Linked DNA regions of Homo sapiens. The protein of the gene in region 3 purifies or fractionates together with the protein of the main gene of each other region. This does not show direct contact. Each region holds a gene or a part of one and is shown on either strand. Other genes may lie near its edges. The genes, in order: LAPTM4A, GAS6, SUN3, PCYOX1L and TBC1D9.

Evidence for each region.
Region 1: the proteins of SUN3 (region 3) and LAPTM4A purify together in Homo sapiens (affinity purification with mass spectrometry; one large-scale study listed by BioGRID and IntAct). This does not show direct contact.
Region 2: the proteins of SUN3 (region 3) and GAS6 purify together in Homo sapiens (affinity purification with mass spectrometry; one large-scale study listed by BioGRID and IntAct). This does not show direct contact.
Region 4: the proteins of SUN3 (region 3) and PCYOX1L purify together in Homo sapiens (affinity purification with mass spectrometry; one large-scale study listed by BioGRID and IntAct). This does not show direct contact.
Region 5: the proteins of SUN3 (region 3) and TBC1D9 purify together in Homo sapiens (affinity purification with mass spectrometry; one large-scale study listed by BioGRID and IntAct). This does not show direct contact.

What each region holds. Positions count from the first base shown.
Region 1 is NC_000002.12:20,048,824-20,052,923, reverse strand, and holds the start of LAPTM4A (lysosomal-associated transmembrane protein 4A), read left to right. Parts: upstream 1-1,295; 5' UTR 1,296-1,403; coding exon 1,404-1,514; intron 1,515-4,100. UniProt on the Homo sapiens protein: May function in the transport of nucleosides and/or nucleoside derivatives between the cytosol and the lumen of an intracellular membrane-bound compartment.
Region 2 is NC_000013.11:113,826,072-113,829,588, forward strand, and holds part of GAS6 (growth arrest-specific protein 6 precursor), read right to left. Parts: intron 2,641-3,517; coding exon 2,476-2,640; intron 1,094-2,475; coding exon 925-1,093; intron 1-924. UniProt on the Homo sapiens protein: Ligand for tyrosine-protein kinase receptors AXL, TYRO3 and MER whose signaling is implicated in cell growth and survival, cell adhesion and cell migration.
Region 3 is NC_000007.14:48,022,602-48,026,118, reverse strand, and holds part of SUN3 (SUN domain-containing protein 3), read left to right. Parts: intron 1-180; coding exon 181-242; intron 243-3,517. UniProt on the Homo sapiens protein: As a probable component of the LINC (LInker of Nucleoskeleton and Cytoskeleton) complex, involved in the connection between the nuclear lamina and the cytoskeleton.
Region 4 is NC_000005.10:149,361,029-149,364,545, reverse strand, and holds part of PCYOX1L (prenylcysteine oxidase 1-like isoform 1 precursor), read right to left. Parts: intron 1,910-3,517; coding exon 1,703-1,909; intron 511-1,702; coding exon 336-510; intron 1-335. UniProt on the Homo sapiens protein: Likely to have oxidoreductase activity. Required in the mevalonate pathway to regulate prenylation and enhances the bactericidal activity of neutrophils.
Region 5 is NC_000004.12:140,676,369-140,679,885, forward strand, and holds part of TBC1D9 (TBC1 domain family member 9), read right to left. Parts: intron 3,476-3,517; coding exon 3,247-3,475; intron 2,836-3,246; coding exon 2,574-2,835; intron 734-2,573; coding exon 526-733; intron 1-525. UniProt on the Homo sapiens protein: May act as a GTPase-activating protein for Rab family protein(s).

The DNA.
Region 1 (4,100 bases), on a different chromosome or scaffold from region 3:
CTCCTAAAATTTGTATTTTATTGGGGAGATAATCAACAAATACATACATAATTTCAGGCAGTGTTCAAAGAAGCCATGCCAAAGAAATAACCTTTACTCTGAATTCAGTGTGGTCTCTGGCTAAGAATATGCCCTGGCAGAAGGGAAGCCCTTTCTATTCTCTGAAAAGAAGTGTGTTTACCAAAGCATTAAATGATAAATACATTTTTTAACGGTGAAGTCACAGGTCTCACAGAAATACAAAATGAACACGTGTAAAAAATTTATTTACTCATTAACCCGGGGACCAGTAAGCTGTTAGAACCAGCTCTAAGCAGAATTTAAAGCACCCATCTATATTGTTGAATCAGGACTGGGGAATGAATTTACAAATCGATGCAAAATGGCTTTTCCCAAGGAAGGGTAAGATAACAATACGAGGGGTCTTACCGAGTTGTGCAGAGCACCACAAAGAAAAGCGGACAGCCCCTCTAGCAACAGAATGCCCGGGACGGTGTGCCAAACTATGGCTGTTTTTTCATTGAAGACATTCAGTAATTTTTTGTCCATTTCAATGTGTTTCATAATTTCTCCCTACAAAAAAAAATCACTCATCTCCAAAAACCCAGCAGCTAAGTAGTTCTTCTACATTATCTTGCTTTCATTTATCCTTAATCCTTTTGCCTTTGGCAGGGTTGGATGGTCTTTCTTCGCCCCCACCAAGGAGGCTTCGGAGGGAAAAGAGGGTGTAAATCCAATCCCTCCACTCCTCCAGGCACCCTCCCATTTCCGCCACAGGGGCGAGGATGGCTCAAGGCTGGGCTTGGCTCTGTCCCTTCCCCGCAGGCCCCGCCCCCAGCCCGCGCAATAATTGAGCTGCGCGCAAAGGTCACGTTATCAGCCTGTGACGCTTCCCATCCAGTACGTGGCACACATTGCTCAGAAAAGCCCCTTGTGCCCGCTTTCTGCCATCCGCGCTGTCTCGTGTCTCCCTTTTTCCATTAAATGCCTCTTTTCTTGCGGGTCTCATCTCGGGAATAGTGCACTACGGGGACATACCTATCCCCAACTATCCTAGGCCCGAGAACCAGCCCTTGCCTTCGCGTAACAGGCGGAGACTCGCTGAGGCGAGTTGCACTTCTAATTGGGCGTGAGGTCTTGTCAATCCCCAAGTTCTTCCAATCAGAAGTCCGGTCCATCCAGCCTTCCGCTCCCCATTGGCCTGTGTGGAGGAAGAGGGGTGGGTAAGCCGAAGTCGCTGCGCTCAGTGCGCAGGCGCGAAGAAGCTGGCAGGGGCACGAGCCGGGGGCGGGTTTGAAGACGCGTCGTTGGGTTTTGGAGGCCGTGAAACAGCCGTTTGAGTTTGGCTGCGGGTGGAGAACGTTTGTCAGGGGCCCGGCCAAGAAGGAGGCCCGCCTGTTACGATGGTGTCCATGAGTTTCAAGCGGAACCGCAGTGACCGGTTCTACAGCACCCGGTGCTGCGGCTGTTGCCATGTCCGCACCGGGACGATCATCCTGGGGACCTGGTACATGGTAAGGCGGGCAGGCGTGGCGCGTATGTCCGGGGGGCCTGGGGAGCGGGGCCTGGTGCGGAGGGGGTGAGACTGGAAACGGGGTGTTGGGTGGGGCGGGGACTTGGAGGGGCGCTGCTTTTTAAGGCGCGCCAACTCTGGATGAAGTCCAAGGACTTTGGGAAAGTAACCTTGTTCAGGAATCGGAGTCGGGGGAGCGGGGGGCGGTGGTAAGCATGGGGAGATTGTTCTTTGGCAAGAATTTGAGGAGAGAAGCGGGCTTGGGAGAGCAGAGGCTTTGCAGGCGAAGGGACGAGGGTGGTAGGATTTGGTGGGAATTCCTCTGTTTTGGTTCTTGTTGTATTTCTACGATCTGAAAGGCAGCATCTCCCTTCCTCCTATCCAGTGCTCCCTGGAATTTTTTCCTCTAATGAAATAATTAGGAGCGGACCTTGGTAAACGCAGTCTAGTTTCGACATTGGTCTTCCCGTTGGGAAAGCGAAAGATCCAGCGGTAACCCGGTTGTCCGCGTTTCTTGGACTTTGTTTTGTTTCATGCCTCTCTTGCATCTCCAGAATCGCTTGGGGGCGATAGCTTTTGCCTGAGTTGACGCCTGACCAGCTTTTGTCCTGGTGCAGCCTCCTCCCTGCGCAGTAGGTGCTTTTCGTAGCCGACCGGCTGTTTTTACAGAGACCTTTATTGAGAGCCCTCTCCATCCTGGCCACCTACCCCGGTATCTCCTGGGTTCCAAGATCTGTGTGATTCTGTCCTAACCAAGTTGACACTGTTGTTGCCTGGTGATTCACTAGTAATAAGTTTGTGATTTTTTCTTTTGTAATTCACCATTTATAGTATCCATGCACATTAAACCTAACTTGTCTATGACTTCCAAATATGGGATTCAGTTTAGGTAGTTTTAGGTTATTATGATTTTGCCGAAGCCGTGACAAACTTCCTACATGGTCGACTTGGCCACTTTAATGACTTCGCGAATGTGGTTGTGTGGGTGACGTTGGTGATACTGTGCAGTTTTTGATACTTAACTGCAAAAGAGGAAGAGAGTTATCCCAGACACAATCTGTTTTCTCTGTACTTGCTGCTTCTCCCCACTCATTGACTTGAAATCATTAGTAAGCATTTGGACAAACGCCAGATGAGAATCATCTTAAATGAGGCAGATACTGTTTCATGGCCCACCCCCGGGGGACTACCTGACTCCACATGACTGCTACCTGCCCTGTTGTTTTTTACCGTCTTGTTTCTGATGTACATTTAAAAAACAACACGAATGTGTAGGTTTGCTTGTGCTGAGTTTATTTTCATGTTTCCTGTACTTTTATATTCGGAAATACCGCCTTATTGACAGAACTATATCACATTTTCCCTCAGAGACTCTTTCGTTCTGTATTTTAACTGATTTGGAATACTAAACATAGAGTTAATGACCATCAGCTGCATTATGTTTCTAACTTCCTTTTATAGCTTCTCCATTTTGCTGAGGGGCTGGGTCTCATTTCTTTTGTTTGTCCTTAGCTCTGTCTTCTATTTCCCTAAATGAATAATTCAAACCTTGAGGATCCTCAAGGCTATTACTCAATTCCGTCTTCCTCACCCCCAGAAGATGACTTTCTTTCCTATTTAACTAAGAGAATCCATCGACCTGGCTCTCTCCTGCAGTCTTAGTCTTCCTGTTTCTTCTCAGATCCTTCCCTCCACTCACAGAACAAAGGATTCCTAACTCCTCAAGAAGAGAATACCACCATTTCTATTTCAACCATCCGAATGTAATTGGCTGTATTTCTTTTCAGTTTTTCTCAGGCAGATTTTTTGATGCTGTGGGCTCAGCTAGAAAATGAATAGAATAGCAGGATAAAGTGGGAACTACAAACAGGAAACTCAAAATGCAGAGAGAAAAACTTCATTACGGGCGCTTATTCTTACAAAATAGGGAGTGAGGAGTTTACATCTGTTCCCTACTTTAAGCCCTTGTTGTGAGAAGGGTTCACATACCTCTGAAGACCATGCTTTAGTTTCACAATTTTAAAAAGATGCCATAGCTGTTCTTACTTTGCATAGACTTCTCAGATTAGTGTAAAACATTTTATTGTAAACTTCTTAAATCGTTTGACCTGTCTTAAATTGATTAAGAGATTTACTGACCACCTGCAGTGTAAAAGGCTTTGGTGGACAAACAAAAGGAATAAATCACAGGGGCCATGTGTCATTTGCCTTGTTTTCCTATTACCTGCTAAGTGCTAGACTCTCAAATGTTTCTTGTCTAACACAGCATCTGCCCTTAAGATATTTATGGTATCACAAACTTGGAGCACAGATATGAAAAACATATGGTACAGTGATGAGGAGGAGGAGAAGGTGATCAGTAATATCAGATTCTAATCAGAATAAGTACTGGAAAAAGGCCATTGGTTTTGTTTATTATAGTTTTGTTGATGACTTTCAAAAGAGTAGCTTGAATACCATAGCAGTGTAAAGACAGTCTCTACCAACTTGGGGAGACATGTAACACTTATGATGCAAGACCACCTAAGCCAAACTGTAGTATAATACTTCGAAGCAAAGAAGGCTTGTCCAAGTAGTGCATTTTATT
Region 2 (3,517 bases), on a different chromosome or scaffold from region 3:
GCCGAGCAGTAACACTATCCTCACAGCAGCACCCCCGGAGCCTGCACTGGGGAGGGCGGCAGCGTGGCGTCACAGGACTGGGCCAGCAGCTCACATCCACCCTGTCCTCCCTTTTTCAGGCCTAGGTTCACTGTCCCCCAGGCAGCTTCACGGCTGTTTTTACACACCTCCCATTGTAGCTGTCTCACCGGGTCATCGGTGACCACGGTGTCCACCATGTTACCGAGAGCTTCTCTGTGCCCCTGGACGAGTCCTAAGGCTGTGCTGTCTCCGGACTTTCTGCAAAGGACCCTGTAAGGCTCCCAGCCTCCCCGGCCTCGCAGGCACCTTCTCTCCCCGGCCTCCCGGCGCTGGCCTCGCAGGCACCTTCTCTCCCCAGCCTCCCGGCGCCGGCCTCGCAGGCACCTTCTCTCCCCGGCCTCCCGGCGCCGGCCTCGCAGGCACCTTCTCTCCCCGGCCTCCCGGCGCCGGCCTCGCAGGCACCTTCTCTCCCCGGCCTCCCGGCGCTGGCCTCGCAGGCACCTTCTCTCCCCGGCCTCCCGGCGCCGGCCTCGCAGGCACCTTCTCTCCCCGGCCTCCTGGCGCCGGCCTCGCAGGCACCTTCTCTCCCCCGCCTCCTGGCGCCGGCCTCGCAGGCACCTTCTCTCCCCGGCCTCCTGGCACTGGCTTCGCAGGCACCTTCTCGGCACATCTCTCTCATTTCTTCTTCACTGGCTGACTCTGAACTGAGTGACCTGCATGGCCATCCTGAGAGGTGGGCCTCTGCCCGCACCTCCGCCCACCCCGCCCACCCATCCCTGCCCCGGAACCGGAGGAGCCTCAGCTTGTCCTGACGCTGCCATCTGAGGCCGTCTGCTTGCTTTCAGCGTATGCCTGTCTGAAGGTGCAGCCACAGCCACCCCAACGGTAAGAGCCAAGACTTACTGTAGTCCAGGCTGTAGAAGGCGAAGCCGCTCCCGGGGTAGAAAGAGCCTCTCTCCGTCACCGAGAAGCACTGCATCCTCGTGTTCACTTTCACCGTTTCCTGGATGGTGGTGTCTTCTCCGTTCAGCCAGTTCCAGCTCCTCATGCAGCCATCCAGACGAGGGTTTATCTGGAAAGGCAGAGAAATCTCCGTGGCTTCCTGGGAGCGAGAAGCCCCATGCCGGATGCCCCAGTCGGTGGGTGGCGCCTTCGCGGCCCTGGTATGTGCAGCTCTACGGCAGAAACGGGCCAGTCCCATCGGTGGTGGCCATTTCACAGAAGGTTTCTTCACTTTACACAACGCCTCACTGCAGAATACCTATTTCCACTGGTGTATGCTCAAGAACTAAAGGTTCATTTTAAAGCTAGGAAAGGACTGAAAAGGCCATGTGGGTCTAAGGTCAAAGAGTATGGATTGTTCAACCATCCAACACTCATGTGAATTATTCAATATTCAATATGGCTGTGGGCAAATCAGGGCAACCCCCTTATCTGTGAAACGAGGAGGGTCCAGCCAGGCAAAGTCCCGGCACCAGGCTGTCTGTGGGCCTGGGAAGCAGGTGCCCCTCACAACACCGAAGGTCCCGGCACCAGGCAGTCTGTGGGCCTGGGGAGCAGGTGCCCCTCACAACACTGAAGGGGTGGCTTCAGCACAGGCACTGCCGACACTCAGCACCCAAAGACGCGAAGACATGCGTGCCTTTCTCCTGCCTGGTGTGGAAGTGAAAATACCCAGGATGACGGCTTAGACGTCAGCACGTGGGGGCTGGAGACACAGGTCGGGGGCACGGGCGTGTGCTGTGCTGAAGGGGAGAGAAGGCGGGACCTGGAGCAATGGCCCACACTGACCGCCCATCATGGCTGTTTTCCCCTTATGAGACTCACGGCAGAGTTACAAAACCCAAAATGTTCTTGGAAATTGTCCAAAAAAGTTTACTGTTCTGTTAAAGAATAATTTCGGCCGGGCGCGGTGGCTCACGCCTGTAATCCCAGCACTTTGGGAGGCCGAGGTGGGCAGTTCACGAGGTCAGAAGATCGAGACCACGGCGAAACCCCGTCTCTACTAAAAATACAAAAAAATTAGCCGGACGTGGTGGCGGGCGCCTGTAGTCCCAGCTGCCTGGGAGGCTGAGGCAGGAGAATGGCGTGAACCCGGGAGGCGGAGCTTGCAGTGAGCCGAGATCGCGCCACTGCACTCCAGCCTGGGCAACAGAGCAAGACTCCGTCTCAAAAAAAATAATAATAATTTAATTGTGTCTTATCTCCATTGAAAAATAGACAACTTTATTATCAATTCAGATGAAAACTTAGGTCTCATAAAAAGAGATGGTAAAATTAATGACATAGCTGTACGGCGACTTTGTCAAACTCTAGGAAACCTTTCCTTCCTCTAGGTCCTCCTCACACCTGGTTAATGGTAAACACAGGGCAGGGTGTGACTGAGGCTTCCTGACACCGTTCCCGGGATCCCAGCACACGGCGCGTCTACACAGGGACAGGTACAGTACTCACAGGCTGCACGAGGTCCTTCTCATGGAAGGGAATACCTCCCACGGTCAGGTTCAGATGATACAGTCCTCGCTCCGGTTGGAACAAGTCCCCGGCCACCGCGATTTTCATGACAGCATCCCTGTTGACCTTGATGACCAGATTCCGCGCCAGCTCCTCAACAGAGATCTGAAGAGAGGCAGCGCCATGAGAAAAGATGGGAGTGCACGTTCTGAAGGGGCTCCCAACTGAGAAAAACCACACTCATCCTCTCCTGAGCCAAGAGGGTCCCGACCTCGGGGAGGCCACCTGATCCTCACCTGGGCCAAGAGGGTCCCAACCTCAGGGAGACCACCTGATCCTCCCCTGAGCCAAGAGGGTCCCGATCTCAGGGAGACCACCTGATCCTCCCCTGAGCCAAGAGGGTCCCGACCTCAGGGAGACCACCTGATCCTCCCCTGAGCCAAGAGGGTCCCGATCTCAGGGAGACCACCTGATCCTCACCTGGGCCAAGAGGGTCTCAATCTCAGGCAGACCACATGATCCTCACCTGGGCCAAGAGGGTCCCGATCTCAGGGAGGCCACCTGATCCTCACCTGGGCCAAGAGGGTCCCGACCTCAGGGAGACCACCTGATCCTCCCCTGAGCCAAGAGGGTCCCGATCTCAGGGAGACCACCTGATCCTCACCTGGGCCAAGAGGGTCTCAATCTCAGGCAGACCACATGATCCTCACCTGGGCCAAGAGGGTCCCAATCTCAGGGAGGCCACCTGATCCTCACCTGGGCGAAGAGGGTCCCAATCTCAGGGAGACCACCTGATCCTCACCTGGCCAAGAGGGACCTGACCTCAGGGAGACCACCTGATCCACACCTGAGCCAAGAAGGTCCCAATCTCAGGGACACCACCTGATCCTCACCTGGGCCAAGAGGGTCTCAATCTCAGGGAGACCACATGATCCTCACCTGGGCCAAGAGGGACCTGACCCGGGGAGACCACCTGATCCTCACCTGGGCCAAGAGGGTCCCAACTTCAGAGAGACCACCTGATCCACACCTGAGCCAAGAG
Region 3 (3,517 bases):
ACGATCTTCTCTCAATTTAAAAAATAGTGGATTGGAAATTAAAGTAATTCATAGACTCAACCTAGATTAAGCAAGAATGAAAATAAGTAAGTTTGTTGACGTGAGTGTAGTGGCTAAAGTCCAAGTTAAATGCATGATGTTGTTAAATTCTTTTTCTAATCATTGTTTTTATTCTTTTAGGGTAACTCGATCATGGAAGATTATTCTAAGTACAATGCTTACACTGACTTTTCTTCTTGTAGGTAAGTCTTCCTAAGTAATGATCCTTAAAACCATTCCACAGGTTATGTCTGCCTGGTGAGAGAGATCTCAACGGAATGACTCATATTTGTAAATAAATGCCACGGAAAGTGCTGGAGGTGACCTGCACATTCTCAAAGCTTTTTCGTTTGTTTTTTATTTCTGATTGTAAGAGTAATACTGGCTTTTTAATAGAAAATTTAGAAAGGAGATTTTTCTTTTAGAATTGTGGTTTGCTTTTTGCAAATTTTTTAGTCATAGATGTTGCTTTAAAGTTAAGAATTTCTAATATATTTATTGCAAACATACATTTTACCTTTTCTAAATTTAGGTGACTCCACTTGGGAGGTTTTGACAACCAGAGACTCTTGCTCATCACACAGTTCCCAAATAAATTACTGCAGAATGTGCAGTTTGTAGTTTCGTATCGGGAAATATCACCATCCACCACCCCTAGCACACTGGAAAATTGTTCTTTAATATATTCACAACTTAAGGCATGTATCTCCCATTAAAATAAAAGTTTCAACCCAGTTATTGTTACAAAAAAGATCATATAGCATGTGATCTTTCTTATCTGCCTTCTTTCACTTAGCATAATGTTTTTAAGGTTCATCCATATCCTATCATGTGTCAGTTCCTCATTCCTTTTTGTAGCTAAATAATATTTCATTGTATGTATATACCTCATTTTGTTTATCCATTTATCTATTCATGGACATTTAGAGTGCTTTTATCTTTAGGCTATTGTGAATAGTGATGCTGTGCATAAGTGTGTATGTGTGCTTATTTGAACACCTGTTCTCAATTCTTTCAAGTATATACATAGGAATGAGATTTCTGGGGAGGAACCACCAGACTGTTTTCCTCAATGGCTGCACTATTTTACATTCCCACAAGCAGTGTAGGAGGACTGCTATAGTTTGGATATCTGTCCTCCCAAACCTCATGTTGAAATTTGAACCCCAGTGTTGCAGGTGGGGGCCTAATGGAAGGCATTTGGGTCATGAGGACAGATTCCTCATGAATCACTTGGTTCCATCCTTACAGTAATGAGTTGTCACTCTATTAGTTCCTGTGGGAGCTAATTGTTAAAAAGAACCTGACTTCTCCCAGCTCTCTCTTGCTCCCTCTCTCACCATGTGATCTCTGCACATGCTGGCTCCTCCTTTGCCTTCCACCATGAGCGGAAGCAGCTGGAGACCCTCACCAGTTGTAGATGCTGGTGCCATGCTTCTTGTACAGCCTATAGAACTGTGAGCCAAATAAACCTCTTTTCTTTATAAATTACCCAACCTCAGATATTCCTTTACAGCAACACAAATGGATTAAAACAAGAAGTCCAATTTCTCTACATTTCCACTATCATTTTTTTCCTTTTTTTTTAAATTACAGCCACCTGATGGATGAAAAGTCATGTTTCATCATGGTTTGATTTCTCTAATGACTAATGATGTCAAGCATCTTTTTATGTGCTTATTGACCGTTTGTATGTGTTCCTTGGAGACATGTCCATTAAAGTCTTTTGCTCATTTTTGATTAGGTTGTTTGTCCTTTTGTTGTTGAGTTGGAAGAGTTTTTTAATATATTCTAGATACCAAATCCTTCTCAGATATATCACTTGAAAACATTTCTTTCATTCTAGGTTGTCTTTCATTCTAGGTTGTCTTTGCACTTTCTTTGATACACGAAGGTTTGTAATTTTGAGGGTGTCATATTGAAGCATCCATTGCCAAACCTTTTTAAAAGAGTTTTCTGGTTTTAGCTCTTATAATATTTAGGTAATTGACCCATTTTGAGTTCATTTTTGTATATGATGCAAGGGATCCAACTTCATTTTTTGGCATGTGGAAAGCCAAAGTAATATTTGCTAAAAATATTACTCTTTCCCTATAGGAATCTTTGAATGTCTTGTCCTCTGTTCCAAAAACTGAATTGGCTATAGTTGAATGGGTTTATTTCTGGATATTCTAGCCCATTAGTCTATATGTCTATCATTATCCAGTATCATGCTGTTTGGATTTTGATAAAGATTACTTTGAATCTGTGGACAGCTTTAGGTAGTGTTGCCATCTTAGCAGTAGTAAATCTTCCAATTCATGAACACAAGTTGTCCTTCCATTTATTTAGGTCTTCTTTAATTTCTTTCAGCCATGTTTTATAAATTTCAGTTTTGATTCTAAAGTAAATCTCTTGTAAGCAGCATATAGTTGAATCATGTTTTTAAATTCATTCTGCCAGCCTCTGCCTTTTGATTGGAAAGTTTAATCCATTTTCATTTACATTAATTACTACTAAGGAATGACTTACTTCTGCCATTTTTCTATTTTTTAGAAAATCTATATCTTATACCTTTTTTGTTCTTCATTTCCTTCTTTACTGCCTTCTTTTGTGTTTAATTGCTTTGTTGTAGTGCACTCTTTTGATTCTGATCTGTTTCATTTTGTATACGTTTTTTAGATATTTTCTTAGTGGTTACCATGGGGATTTCAACTGAGACCCTACATTTATAACAATATAGTTTAAATTTATACCAAATTAACTTTAATAGAATGCAAATACTCTGCTCCTATTCAGCTCTGCTCCTCTTTTTTTTCCTCCTTATGATCTGTATTCACTGGGATTTACTCCTCTTTATGTTGTCAAAAATTACATCTTTACACATTGGGTACCCATAAACATAGATTTATAATTATGCTTTATAAATTTGTCTTTTAAATTATGAAAGAAATAAAAGAAGGAGTTACAAACCCAAAACAATAATACTGGTTTCATATTTACCTCTCTGTTACCTTTACTGGAGATTTTGATTGCTTCATGCGGCATTGAGTTACTCTCTAATGTCCTTTCACTGCAGCCTGAAGGAATCCCTTTAGCACTTCCTGAAGGGCTGGTCTAGTCATAGAGACACCATGAGCTTTTCTTTATCTTAGAATATGTTAATTTTTTCTGCAGTTGGGAGAATCGTTTTCTCATATATAGAATTTTTTTTCTTTCAACGCTTTAAATATGTCATCCCACTGTCTTCTGGCCTCTATAGTTTCTGAAGAAAAAAATCAGGTGATAATCCAACAAAGACTTTCTTCTATATAACAAGGCATTGCTCTCTTTCTGCTTTCAAGATTATCTCTGTGTTTTTGTCTTTCAACAGTTTGATTATAATAGGTTTCAGCATGAGTCTTTTTAAGTTTGTCTTACTTGAAGTTTGTTGAGTTTCTTGGATGTGTAGATTCATGGCTTTTTATCAACTTTGGAACTTTTTCAGCCATTATTTCTT
Region 4 (3,517 bases), on a different chromosome or scaffold from region 3:
GGCCTTGTTCTGCTCTCTTCCACCTGCTGATTCACTGACTCGCATCCCAGTTCAGCCCTTGTTAAGCGACTGAGTTTGCAACCCATGCTTTTATTAGTATCAGTGTAGTAGAGGGTAAGAAAATGAGAGTCAATGTGACAATACTAGGGAGACCATTACTGGACCAAATACGGCCATTCCTCATGCCAGGGGCTTGCTCTGAGCCTGCACTGAATTGTGCTGGCTCAATTCAGCAAGGACCTTTTCCTTTTTCACAAAGTACAGGCAAGCTGGTTCCTCCCCCACCTCTTCTCGGTTCCCCTGGAACGCCATCCCCACAGCTCTGCCAGCCCTACCTCATGAACTTCTCCATGACCTCCTCCACCCACATCTGCAGCCTCAGGAAGCTGATGCCATAGTGCCACCAGAGGCGGAAGAGGTTCAGCAGGTACCAGTCAGTCTCCTCCAGCATGAAGTGCTCCCCGCCGAAGATGGCGCTCCTGCCCACCACCTCGCGCCGGTGCCTCAGCCCTGCAGAGACAAAGAGGAGCCCCTCAGGTCCCCTCCAAGACTTGGGGCCCTCTTGATGCAAATGGACTGGTCCATTAAAGGAAACACAAATGCTATGGTTTGTTCATTTGTGCTGCTTGTTAATAAACAGTAAACAGATGCACTGGGAAAATGTTTGGACTACCAAGTCAATAAAAAAATGAAAATGAAAATAATGTAACATTTTACATTTTTTTTCCCCAGGAGGATCCACAAGTGAGGGAAATTCAGATTTTATCCCAGAATGTCCAGGGGGTGACAGCCACTGGGCTTGTTTGGAGATGGTGGCCTTGGGCACTGAGATCACTTGGAAGTTATCCTAGCTCCTTACAGCCATCCTGCACTCTGCAACTTGACAGAGCAGTGGACTCCTAAACACAGACAGAGCTGCTATGACTTGTTCCTTCCCCACCCCCACATACTACACACACTGCTCTCCACTTTAACAATACACTGTATCTTGGAGATTGCCCTGTATCTGGGCATAAAGACTTCCCCATTCTGACTGCTGAACAGCCTATTGTGTAGTTATACAATAATTTGTTTAACCCCAGGTCCTAGTGGATAGGCAGCTAGGATACTTTCAGCCTTTTGCTATTACAAACAATGCTGTAGTGAATAACTTGGTATCTATGCTACTTTGCACATCTGTAAGACCACCTGTAGCATCACTTCTGAGAAGCAGAGTTTCTGCATCAAACAGAACGTGTATTGGACAGATGCTGCTGGGTTTGAATCCCACCTCTCGCTGTAATGGCTTTAGCTTAAATCTATACATTTTCTGAGCCTCAGTTGCCTTAAGAGGAGATATAACACTCATCTTGCAGGTTGGTAGAGGGGAGCTGAGGTAATGCCTACATACCACCCAGAAGGTGCCTGGCAAGCACTAGCATGTGGAAGGTGATATAATCACGATTATTTAGAGGCAGCAAATTGAAAGGGAAAGAAACTGGCCTAGGAGTCAAACCTGAGTTCTAATCCCGGCTCTGCAACTAACTCACTGTGTAACCTCAGGCAAGTTCCTTCCCCTCTCTTGTTTCTGTTGCTCCATCTGTAAAATGAGATTGGGCCACATGACCTTCTGGCCTTGATGGTCTGGGAAGTCTGAGAAGGGCCCAGTGCTGTCACCAGCCCCAGGGCGCTGGGCACTGGAGCCCCAGGACTGACCACTCACCCAGCAGCTTGACGAAGTCCTGCATGTGCAGGCTCAGGGAGTGGAAGGAGGCAGCCCCGCTCTCATAGTGCTGCTTGTTGACTGAGATGGTGGCCAAGCGGCCACCCACGGTTCCCTTCTCGTACACGTCGATCTGCACCCGAGGTCCAAAGTGCTGCTGGAGAAAATGGGCCACAGCAGAGCCCCCAATCCCAGCCCCAACCACCGCTGTCAGCAGGCCCGGGAGGTAGGGAAGAAGAGAGACAGAACATGAGAGTGAGAGGCTGTAGTTCACACTTTGTATCCTCCTGCGCTGGTGGTTCCCAGGTGCTTAAATTTCCTAGGCTTATAACATTTCCAAAAGGAAATCTGCGGACTGAGTTGTCAGTAGAGCTATTAATAAGCAAAGGCAAACCTGAAAACTGCTGCCTACTATACTTTCGTTTCATAAAGAAAAAGGTATTTTGCAGCAAAAGACCAGCAAAGAATACTGAAAGTCAGGATGACCAATTAAAGAGAATAAATTTAGTTTTATATAAAACTCACTACCTTGCTTCTAACTTTCTTATTTCCCTATGAATTGTTAAAAGTTACTGACCAGTTCTGTTCAGTGATCAGTGTTTGGAAACCAGGCCTTAATCCAGGGATTGGCAAACTACAGCCTGCAGGCCAAATCCAGAAAGATGCCTGTTTTTGCAAACTAGAGTTTTATTGAAACACAGCCATGATGCTCTTTCTTTCAATTATTGTCTATGACTGTTTTCATTTTAGGCAGAGTTGAGTAGCTGCAACAGAGACTGCATGGCCTGAAAAGCCTAAAATATTTACTCTCTGGCCATTTACAGAAAAAAGTATGCCAACTCCTGGTCTAGTCCAACCTACTATCGGACACCTAAATCATCCTTATGTCTGTGTTTGTCAAGACTGGAATGTATCTGCCAGGCGCGGTGGCTCACGCCTGTAATCACAACACTTTGGGAGGCCTAGCGGGGGCAGATCACCTGAAGTCAGGAGTTCGAGACCAGCCTGACAAACATGGTGAAACCCTGTCTCTACTAAAAATACAAAATTAGCTGGGTGTGGTGGCGCATGCCTGCAATCCCAGCTACTCAGGAGGCTGAGGCAGGAGAATCGCTTGAACCTGGGAGGCGGAGGTTGTGGTGAGCTGAGATCGTGCCATTGCACTCCAGCCTGGGAAACAAGAGCAAAACTCCATCTCAAAAAAAAGAGACTGGAATGTACTCTATGATGGATTGTTCATTACCCTACAGGACACTATATTCCAGTTTGAAATCTTGTTACAAAGTTTCAGCTTTTTTGGGTCTTATCATACACTGTCTTTACTGTACCTCCTGCCTTCCTGTTATTTGTAAACTTGGTTTACATGCCATCACTATTCTCATCGAAGTCACTGATAAGAATGTTTCCTGGGACAGGGCTTGGAGGTGCTGCTAGGAAACCACTGCCTGGACAGACATCAATCAGTTTTTTTTCAAACAGGATCTGGCTCTGTTGCCCAGGCTGGAGTGCAGTGGCATGATATTGGCTCACTGCAAACCTCCCAGGCTCCCAAGTAGCTGAGACTACAGGCACATGCCACCATGCCCGACATATTTTTCGTAGAGATGAGGTTTCACCATGTTGCCCAGGCTGGTCTTGAACTCCTGAGCTCAAGTGATCCTCCTGCCTTGGCCTCCCCAAGTGCTGGAATTACAGGCATTAGCCACTGTGCCTCACCTGACACTAATCATTAAACAGTCCTGTGAGAGAACTATAAACCAGCTATGAAGCTACTGAACTGGACTACCACCCTACCTATAATTTTTGCTCACCATG
Region 5 (3,517 bases), on a different chromosome or scaffold from region 3:
TAGGCCGGGCACAGTGGCTCATGTCTGTAATCCCAGCACTTTGGGAGGCCAAGGTGGGTGGATCACCTGAGGCCAGGAGTTCGAGACCAGTCTGCCCAACATGGTGAAACTCCATCTCTACTAAAAATACAAAAATTAGCTGGGCATGGTGGCAGGCGCCTGTAATTCCAGCTACTCAGGAGGCTGAGGCAGGAGAATCGCTTGAACCTGGAGGGTGGAGGTTGCAGTAAGCTGAGATCATGCCACTGCACTCCAGCGTGGGTGACAGAGCGAGACTGTCTCTAATAAAATAAAATAAAAACAAAACCTACATTAAAAAACCCCCATGCAGCTTCTGGAAGAAGAGATCTCACAGGTCCCAGAGTCACAGCAGTGACAACAAATGAAAGAATGCAGGTGCCACCAAAGACGCATGAACATTCACCTGTGTTCAAAAGCCAATTGTTGGTAAAAAAATTATTCCTGGTTCACCCAGAAAAGTATTACAAATGAAACTTAAAATATCAATTTTTATCAGATACTTACCTCACGGAGCGGGATAATGAGGCTACATAAGTTCTCCTCCTTGCTGGTAAAACAGATGTAATTTGTGGACACAAACATCTGCCCCAAAATGTGCATTTTGTTAAATGGAGTCCAGAGAGTGCAGTCTGTGTGGCCATCTAATTTTTCATCTTTGGGCAGCCGGAAAAGTGCACGGTATCTCTCACTCTTTGCCCTGGCATCAAGATCACTGGAAAGCAATAATTACAATTCACATAAGAAAAATGTTTCCATACCTTCTAAATTATGCAGCAGCGGAAGTTCCCCCAGCCCATTTTCCACCTCCTCAATCTTGCTAGACTCATCCCCCGCTTCTCAGCTTTCTTTATATTGAAGTTAACCCCAACCTAATGACCCAAAAGCGTAATAAAATTATCTTATTATATTTCAGTCCCTTGCATAGTCACTTATAATCCATGTCTGTAAATGTTAAAGAATCATAGCAAAAATAAGCCTGAACAGGAAACTCTTCCTCTTTCTAAAGAAATGCAATACACTCTAAAGAGGTCACTGCATTTACTCTTATCCAAGCCACTTTAGGGGGGGCCTTATCTTTTAAGACCTAATGAGAATGCAAACCAGCCATATAAATCCACTGGGCCTCAGTGTCCACCCCAAATCGACAACAAAGCTGCAGGAAAAGACACAGGAACAACTCACCTTGGGCAACTATGGCTTCTGACCTTAGCTGGGTCTTCTGTTAACTACTATCTTTTCTCTAATGAGTTCTTTGTTCTTGCTCATCATGTCAGTTGTTTAAACCTCTCCCCTCAAGCTTCTACCTGACATCAGCCTCGTGATGGTCTAGTCTCTGACTTCATAGAGCAAAGGTCCATGATGCAGAAGCCCCCTCCAATTCCTTCCCTTCTGTCTCCAAAGTCACCTCCATCCTCACCTACTCTTACTTCCTCTCCATTCCAAAGGAAAAGGTATATCAGGACACACAAGCATCCTTTCCATGCTTTCTCTACAAAATATCACTTCTTAAATGATCAACTTTCTTATAACTATCTCTATGTCCCTTCCTGTCTCCACACCTACCCTCACCAAAATGCTCTTCCCATCTGCCTCCTTCATTTGATACTATGTTCAAATCTTTTTCATTCTAAAAAAAAAAGCAATCCTCCCCTCCTTTACCACTGAATTTCTTGAAAATGAAGTCTGTATTTGCCTAGTTCCCTTTCCTTGTCTTTTATTTTTTATTTGATCCGCTGCAGTAGCAGCATCTATCTTACACTGCTCTTTTGAACATGTCTCAAATCACCAAGGACATCTTAATTACAAAGACCTCTGGTTAGATTTCAACTACCAAATGCACATCAATGATTTCCAATTTTGTATATCTTACTGGACTGATCTCTACTTAGATGAGCTACAGGCACCTCAATTCAACATAATCAAAGCTGAGCTATCGTATCCCTTGGACATGCTCTTCCTTCTCTCATTCCCTGTGTTGATGAAGGGTAATTCCAGGCACATGGGGCATCAACTTTCCATCACCCTCTCTCTAGCTCTGCTCTCACATTCAGACTTTGAGGCTTCTCTGCAGCCTCTCCTCATCCCATGCCCTGCCACCTACTAGCCATGTGACAAAGTTACTTCTCTCTGTGTTTTCCCTTGTGTTTCCCCCATCGTCATCTTCCCTCTGCTTGAAATATCCAGGCATGGATATGTACCTGCACAGGTAACTTCTATCACCTCTTCAGAGCCCAGCTCAAAGCAGCCTCCACTGAGAGGCCTTTCTTACCCACTCTTCCCCATCTGGGCTGAGGCTATCACTCCCCATGTGTGCACCCACAGCACTGTGTTCACAGGACCAGAAGAGTGCCTGCTGCCTTGTGTTGGAGCAGGTCATGTCTGTCTCACTTTCTGAACTGGTAGCACCTCAGCTAGTCTTTTTTAGTTTTGTATCTATACACAGAAGAGTGTTCAGAACCCTTGAAGATCGTCAGAGAAGGTTACACTGAATAAATGAATGAGTGAGTTTCTCATTTCTAAAGTCTGGAAGATACAAGGTCTCTATCACCCACCGTTTTAGAGCAGACACTTTTTTAGGAGATTTCCTTTTGAGTTTGGGCAGGGATCGATCTTGTTCAAATCCCTCATTGTCTAAGAGTTGCCTCATGGCTATGTTGGCAAGCTGCTCCATTAACTTGAAGGTCTCGTTGATGTTGAGGAATACAGAGAAGAAATGCTCACTGGACCGTGTGCTCACTTTGATCACATCAGGCAGAAGCAGGGTGGCATTCTTCTCAAGCTGAGTGATGTCTACCCACCGGATGACCAGTTTCGCTGAGCACAAGGAACAAGCCTGGGTCAACATCTGATTCCTGAAAACGCTTTCAAGATATTGCAGTCTCACAACCCCACTCCCCCATCCCACTGAACTCCTTTGAGTTTATAATACCATATTTGTTTTGCTTGTTCATTTTAAGAGGTAAATCTGGGCCATGTGAATTCTGAGGTCAGAATTATAGATTTAATCCATGTCTACTGAATTAATTACACCTTTAGTGAATCTTTATTACTTAGTGACCATTTTGAACTGAAAAATAATTAAATTCACTTCAGTAGTAAAAAAAAATTAGTATTGACTTAGTTATAACTATAGATTTATTTCTGATATTTTGATGTGGTTTATGAGTTCAGGGCAAACCTCAGTAGACTTTCCAAAGTTTCCTGCTGAAATTTTAGATGACTTACCTTCCCTTCCCATAAGAAAAGAATAAAAGCAAAGGTGGTTAATGCTGAGGTACATCCAACCCTGACGGGGGACCTTCCCCTTCCAATAGCTGCAAGAGTAATAGTTGACGAGTTTCTCTTCCTCTGGCATCCCAAACAGCCTATGAAATTTCACAATGGCTTCTTTAAACTTCTCCGTGTCATCATCTTCCTTTACATCATTGATTTTGTTGTATTCTGCAATGATGCCCTAATAAGGAATAAAACACAAAGCACACAACTGGTATTAATA